2 linked regions of the Homo sapiens genome follow. The protein of the gene in region 1 purifies or fractionates together with the protein of each later gene. This does not show direct contact. Each region holds a gene or a part of one and is shown in the gene's direction. Other genes may lie near its edges.

Region 1 (3,814 bases):
CAGGGTGGCGAGCTCCCCTGAGCCTGGAGGCACCCGCAAGGAATAGGAGCCTATGGTCAGGAAGGCGGCTCTAGGGGTGTGTTCGTCCATTTAGTGTTGTGATAAAGGAACACGTGAGGCTGGGTAATTTATAAAGAAAAGGCGTTTATTTGACTTGGTGTTCTACAGGCTGTGTAGGAAGCATGGCACCGGCATGTGCCTCTGGTGAGGCCTCAGGAAGCTTTTACGCATGGTAAACGGGGAAGGGGATCCGGCGCATCACATGGCGAGACGGGGGCAAGTCGGGGAGGGAGGTGCCAGGCTCTTTTCAACAACCAGACCTCAGTCATTACTGCAAAGAGCCACTGATGAGGGTCTGTCCCATGACCCAAACACCCCCCACCAGGCCCCACTTCTAACACTGGGAGTCACGTTTCAGTGAGAGATTCGGAGAGGACAAACATCCAAACCATACCAGGGAGGCAGATCCAACGTCTCAGGGGTCACAGCCCCCCACATTCACCCTGAGCCCGGGCGCCCAGTTGGTGGAACCAGCCATCAGCCTTGTTCCCTTCCCTTTTCTCCTGGGGGCAGGCTGGTGATCCTGAGGGGCAGGAACGCGCATGCCCCCTCTGAGCCTCTATTTCCCCATCTTAAAAATGCGAGTGCTGTCAGCATGTGCGTGTGTGCGCTTGTGTGTACTGGGGGTTTACTGTGCGTTCTTGGCCCTGACTGCCCACCCCCGGGATGGTGTGGGCACCTGGAGCCTGGAGTCCCCGCGGGCTCACCCCCCACCCCCCCAGCCCAGCCACCACTTCCCTGCAGCCCCGGGGAGCTGCGGCTCCTGCGGAGGCAGGACGTGGCAGTCTTCCAAGTGTCGGCTGTCCAGGGCCTGGTCATCTCCTGGGAATGGCGTCCGCCAGGCGGGCTGGCCTGGCTGAGTGGCTCCTGGAACCAACCCCAAAGCCCAAGGTCACCCAGCAAAGTGGGGGCACAGGGGACTCAAACTACGTCTGGAGCCCGAGTTGAGGGGGAGGGGCTGGCCCTCCCTCCGCCCTCCGGCTTCCTCCTCTAACAAATCACGCGGCCTCACTCTCCAAGTTAGCGCCCCAGTGTGCTGCCCTCTTCAGGCGTCTCTCTGTAAGTGCAGCCACCTGCGCACACGCACATGATCAGACCTGAACACCCCAGCCTTGTGAGTTTGCTCAGCACGCATTTATTGAGCATCAGCTGTGTGAAAACCACAAGGCAGGACTGAAACAGGAGACAAACCAGAGGCATGTGAAGGGGAAATGGTCACAGCCTGGCCCAGGGGTCTCTATGATGAGCAAATGAATAAATGAAATTCAATGACAGTGGATACATTCCACATAGTGAAGGCACCAGGGAGGAAGTGACATCTGAGTTGGGCTCTAAAGCATGAGTAGGATTTTGGCGCACAAGGAGAGTAGATGATATGCCAGGCACAGGAAACAGCATGAGTAGAGATCTAGAGGTGGGGAAGCGAGGGGTGTGTTTGGATAACAACGTGTTTTCTGACCAGGAGGGAAGATGGACAGTCTTAGGGAGCAGTTCTTGAGCAGGCGAGCCAGCACCGGTGTTTCCTGGGAAGGGATCTGGAAGCGACCCTCAGAGAAATCCTGGCCTGTGCCCCCGAACCTTTTGTCCAAGGCATACTGGCCAAGTGTGCCCAGGTCAAAACTGTCAGGAGCTTCCTGGGCTTGGCTGGCTGTGGGTTGTACACAGCACCAGCAGGTGGAGCCCTTGACCCTTGGCTTCTTCCTGCCTGGGCCCAGGCTCCTGGGTCCTGCTCCCATTCTGTCCATCATCTGTCATGGGGCCTCTCAGTGGTCCTTGGACAACCACCAAGCAGGGGTCAGAGTTGGAAGCTGAGACTCAAATGGGGCATGTGGCTAAGAGCATGGTATTTTGAGCAACAGTCAGCTCTGACACCTGCTAGCTGCTCGCTGTATAATCCTGGGCAAGTTACCCCTCTGAGCCTCAGTTTCCTCATTTATAAAATGGACAGCTATGTAACGTGTTTTTTATGATGACTGGCACATGATAAGTGCCAGTTATCATAATTATATTAAGGCTCCAAGGACTGCACACCAAGCTGGGGAGGAATTAGGGAGCCCCTCCTGGCCTGGAAGGCTGCCCCCCACCCCCGGCCCATGAATCCAACACTCTTAGAGAAGAGGCAGCAGCACAGGGAGTCAGGGAACCCAGATGCTGGGAAGCCGGGTGACCTGATGGCCACCTCGGAAAATGACAGCCTGGCAGATTTGTGTGTAAGAGCTCTTCCACCCTTGCTGGTTGGTACTTGGGAACTCTGATGGCACTATGCATGGCATCTCTGGCATACTCACACCAAGCCCTGTAAAGCTGTCAGAGGTGGGGTTTATGGGCCTCATGCTGCCTCCTAGAGCAACTGTGGCCATAGCTAGCTGCCCTTTATGAGTTTACAAAGGGCTGTCCCCCTCCTCCTCCAGGGAGCATGTCTGAGCTGGCGGGCAGCGGGCCAGGGGCCAAGGCTGGCGTGCAATGTCTGGGCTGCCTAACTTTTGCCCCACACTCCTATCCAAGCTACTGTGGACTCTTCTGCCATAAATGACAGTTTGTCTCCAAGTGACATATTTGCCTCCTTTCTAGCCAGAGGTACCCTGGAGTCAATGCACATGTGTTTGCCCTGCCCATCTGGTCACTGAACCCCTGCTGTGTGCCAGCCCTGTCCCAGGGCCTGGGGATTCAGCCAGCAACAAAATAGGGCAAAGCTCTCTGTCCCTCAAGTGCCCATGTGCTACTGGGTGACAGACAATAAGTGATTAGGAAATTGTATAAAATCTTACACAATGACCAAGGCTTTGGAGAAAATGAAGCAGGGAAGTGGTGGAGGGGGGGTGCAATTTTAGGAGGAAGGGACTGGCTGCAGGCAAGGACAGGGAGGAAGTGAGGAGACCTGCCTGATCCCCAGAAGCCCAGCTTGCAGGTAAGGAAACTGAAGCCTGGAGAGGTGCAGCAACTTCCCCAAGGTCACACAGCGAGGAACTTAGAGCTGGTGCCCACCGACCTCTGTGCCCTGACAGACCTGGTCTGTCCTCCACCCACCCTCCCTGAGCTCCAAAGACCCAGCAGGAGTCTGTCTGCACCAGTGTCCTGCCCCTCCCAAGCTCAGCTTGACTCTGGTTCCTGTCTGCTGCCGAACAGGTTGTTCCACCCCTCCTTTTCACAGATGGGCAAACTGAGGCCAGAGAGGGGCCATGCCTGATGGAGATCGCCCAGCGGGCAGTTAGCACCCAGGTGGGTCCACACGTCCACAAGCCCTGGTTGGGGTGGTGGAGGGGGTGTCCTAGGGCTCCTGCCCCCACCCCAGCCTTGTTTTTCCTCTCTGGGCTGACACTGTTACCTTTGCTGCTGCTGCTGCTGCTGCTGCTGCTGCTGCTGCCGCCACCAGGCCAGAAAAACTCGCTGGGCAGGACTGGCTGCTGCCAGCATTAGGCCTGACTTGGTCCTTGGGGCTTTTCTGACAGCCCAGGGGTCAGCCTAGCCCCTTGTTCCCCTGGGTAGGTGGATGTAGGGGTCACACAGAGAGACAAAGATACTCATGATTGCTCAGTGAGAGACTCACACATAACAGTCACTCCACACAGTGGGAGACACACACAGACACACACACACAAGCATCCCAGGAATGCACACTCAGACACAATGGAGACGCTCTCACACCCCCGGCACTGCCCACTGAAGTGAATGGCTCCAGCAGCCTCTCCTCTCACCAACTCAGGCCCACAATCCCAGTGCCCCCTCCCTCCTCTGGCTCTGGGAGGCTCATGCA
Region 2 (3,814 bases), on another chromosome or scaffold:
TCAAAAAGAAACAAAAACAAATCAGCCGGGCCAGGTGGCTCACGCCTGTAATCCCAGCACTTTGAGAGGCTGAGGCGGGGGATCACCTGAGGTCAGGAGTTCGATACCAGCCTAACCAACATGGAGAAACCCCATCTCTACTAAAAATACAAAATTAGCTGGGCGTGGTGGCGCATGCCTGTAATCCTAGCTACTCAGGAGGCTGAGGCAGGAGAATTGCTTGAACCCAGGAGGCAGAGGTTATGGTGAGCTGAGATTGTGCCATTGCACTCCAGCTTGGGCAACAAGAGTGAAACTCCATCTCAGAAAAAAAGAAAAAAAAAAAAGAAAAGAACAAAAAGAAAAACAAAAAACAAAAAAAATTAGCCAGGCTTGGTGGCACGCACCTGTGGTCCTGGCTACTCAGGAGGCTGAGGTGGGAGGATTGCCTGAGCCTGGGATGTTGAGGCTGAGGTGAGCCATGATCGTGCCATTGCACTGCCGTCTGGGTGACAGGGTAAAACCCTGTCTCAGAAAAAGAAAGAAACAAAAATAGAAAGAAAAGAAAGAGTCATTGATCATACCAGGCTATAGAAAAGTCAAAGGGCCTGAAAAGTGTTAAGTTTGGCAGCTAAGGGGTCATTGGTCACTATGTCAGAGCAGTTTTATTGTGATAGTAGAAGATGGAAGAACATGGGAAAAGTAAGAATAGCAAGGGCTGCTGACCTTTTTGCTCAGATTATTTTTTTCTAGAAGCTTGGAAAGGAAGGGAAAAGAGATAGTGCTGAGGCAAAAAAGAGATTCAAGATTGGGTAAGACATTTTTGCTTCTTGCTTGGAGATGACAAAAACTTACTAAGAGCCTTTGAGGAAGGAGCTAATAGAGAATGCTGGTGAAGATTCAGGAACACAAAGCAATGGGATTTGCCTTGAACTGTTTGGGAGATAAGGTAAGCACTTCACCTGTGTTCTCATTTAATTCTCATAGGATACTATTACGGCTTCCTTTTTACAGGAGAGAAAATCAAGGTTTGGAAAGTTAAATTTGCCCATGTAATTTAGTTACAGAATCTTTATTTTTATTTTTAAAATTATTTTATTTATTTATTTTTGCACCATGGCCTCCCTCCCCCAACTCTAAAATCTGTATTTTTAAACACTATATTGCTGGGCATGGTGGCTCATGCTATTGACGCCAACACTTTGGGAGGCCAAGGCAGGAGGAGTTTGAGAACAGCCTAGGCCACATAGTGAGACCCTGTCTCTACAAGGGAAAAAAAAAAAAAAAAGAAGACAGGTATGGTGGTACATGCCTGTAGTCTCAGCTACTCAGGAGGCTGAAGTGGGAAGATTGCTTGAGCTCAGGTGTTTGAGGCTGCAGTGAGCTATGATTGGGCTACTGCACTCCAGCCTGGGTTACAGAGTGAGACTGTGTCTCTAAATACATTAATGAATAAAACACTAAGTGATGCTACCTCTGGCAGGGGTGATGACATCTTTTCTTATGAGATACAGGAGGGAAAGTGATAAAGATGGGTTTGTAGGTTGGGGAGCAGGGAGTTCATGCTAAATAATCACTTCTATTTTCTTTTCTTTTCTTTTTTTTTTTTGAGACAGAGTCTTGCTCTTGTCGCCCAGGCTGGAGTGCAGTGGTGTGATCTCCGCTCACTGTAGCCTCCACCTCCCAGGTTCCAGCAACTCTGCCTCAGCCTCCCCAGTAGCTGGGATTACAGGCGCACTCCATCACACGCAGCTAATCTTTTGTGTTTTAGTAGAGACAGGGTTTTACCATGTTGCCCAGGCTGGTCTTGAACTCCTGAGCTCAGGCAGTCTGCCCGCCTCGGCCTACCGAAGTGCTGAGATTACAGGCATGAGTCACTGCACCTGGCCAAATCACCTCCATTTTCATGATGAAATGAAAGGCAAATTTTTTTTACAGAGTGAAGAAAAGGAAAGTAGTAAGGACTTTAGAAGGAATAATGAAGTCTGGGAATTGCTGCTGTGGAGTGTAGAGGAGCCAACCAGTGCCTTAGAAAGGAATTGCAAGCCAGGTGCGGTGGCTCATGCCTGCAATTCCAGCACTTGGGAGCCTGAGGTGAGAGGATCACTTGAAACCAGGAGTTCAAGACCAGCCTGGGCAACATGGTGAAACACCGTCTCTACCAAAAAACAAAACAAAACAAAAGCCTGGCATGGTGGTACGCACCTGTAGTCCCAGCCACTTGGGAGACTGAGGTGGGAGGATCCCTTGAGCTCAGGAGGCTGATGCTGCAGTGAGCCATGGGAAAGAAAGAGCAAGAGAGAGAGGGAGAGAGAGGAATTGCTCAGCAGTGCTGAATGTGGAGACCATAAACTCAGAGTAGGGTTGATCTGGTGGTTGTGAGATTTTCCTCCAATAGCGCTTATCTGTTCAGGTAAGCCGGGAGAGAAGACAGTTGGTTGCAGGTAGCGGCAGTAGAGATTAAGAAGATAGGGATATTTCAAGTGATAGAGAGGAAGTAAGGGTATATAAGAGAAATAATGGATTGGAAGAAAAATTAGGGCTCCATGGATTCAAAATCTTGGTGAGTTAGAAGAGAAGGATAGTGGGAGTAGATAGGGGATGTGATTAGAGATGATGACAATTGTTATATTTTGGAGTTTTAAGATTCCAGAGATAGAGGCCAAGGAGGGCAGATCACTTGAGCTCAGGAGTTCAAGACCAGCCTGGCCAACATGGCAAAACCTCACTTCTACCAAAAATACAAAAATTATCTGGATGTGGTGGTGTGTGCCTGTAGTCCCAGCTGTTCGGGAGGCTGAGGTAGGAGAATCGCTTGAAACCTGGAGGTGGAGGTTGCAGTGAGCTAAGGTTGTGTCACTGCACTCCAGCCTGGGCAACAAGAGCGAAACTCCGTCTCAAAAAAAGAAAAAAAAAAAAAAAGGATTCCAGAGATGAAGCAGGTAAGACAATTAGGAGCTCTAAAGTTGATGTATTGGGTTGCATATGGGAATGATGATGAAGTCCACAGAGATTATGGAGTGTACTGTAGCAGAGAGGGAGACTGTATTCTAGGAGTGGCAGGAAGGTCCAGAAGTAACAGCAGTAAGGATGTTTTAAACAAATAATAGTAAAAGTGGCAACTACTTCTCACCTCCTCTGATGTAGTATTTATTACAGCTATAGACAAAATAGGAAGAAACTTTGTACTTCATTTTAGAATTTTGTCTTGTGATAAAGTTTTTACCCTAACATTTTGTCATGAAGATTTTTCAATACACAGAAAAGTCTAAAGAATTGTACAGTAAACACTCGTATACCCATCACCCAGATTTTATAATTAACATTTTATTACAATTTTATTATGTTTGCTCTATGGCATGCCTATCCATCCCTTCATCCTTGAATCCATCTTATTATTATTATTTTTTTTTGAGATGGAGTCTTGCTCTGTCTCCCAGGCTGGAGTGCAGTGGCACAATCTCGTCTCACTGTAACCTCCGCCTCCTGGGTTCAAGTGATTCTCCTGCCTCAGCCTCCCGATTAGCTGGGATTACAGGCATGTGCCACCACACCTGGATAATTTTTGTATTTTTATTACAGACAGGGTTTCGCCATGTTGGCCAGGCTGGTCTCAAACTCTTGACCTCAGGTGATCCACCTGCCTCGCCCTCCCAAAGTGGGATTACAGGCATGAGCCACCATGCCTGGCCCATTTTTGTATTTTTAATAGAGATGGGGTTTCTCCATGTTGGCCAGGCTGGTCTTGAATTCCTGACCTGAAGTGATCTACCCGCTTCAGCCTCCCAAAGTGCTGGGGTTATAGGTGTGAGCCTCTGTGCCCAGCCAGGAGTTT

The links.
Region 2: the proteins of GRAP (region 1) and SOS1 fractionate together in Homo sapiens (co-fractionation; one study listed by BioGRID). This does not show direct contact.

Annotation. Positions count from the first base shown.
Region 1 is NC_000017.11:19,029,841-19,033,654, reverse strand, and holds part of GRAP (GRB2-related adapter protein), read left to right. Parts: intron 1-3,814. UniProt on the Homo sapiens protein: Couples signals from receptor and cytoplasmic tyrosine kinases to the Ras signaling pathway. Plays a role in the inner ear and in hearing.
Region 2 is NC_000002.12:39,110,811-39,114,624, reverse strand, and holds part of SOS1 (son of sevenless homolog 1), read left to right. Parts: intron 1-3,814.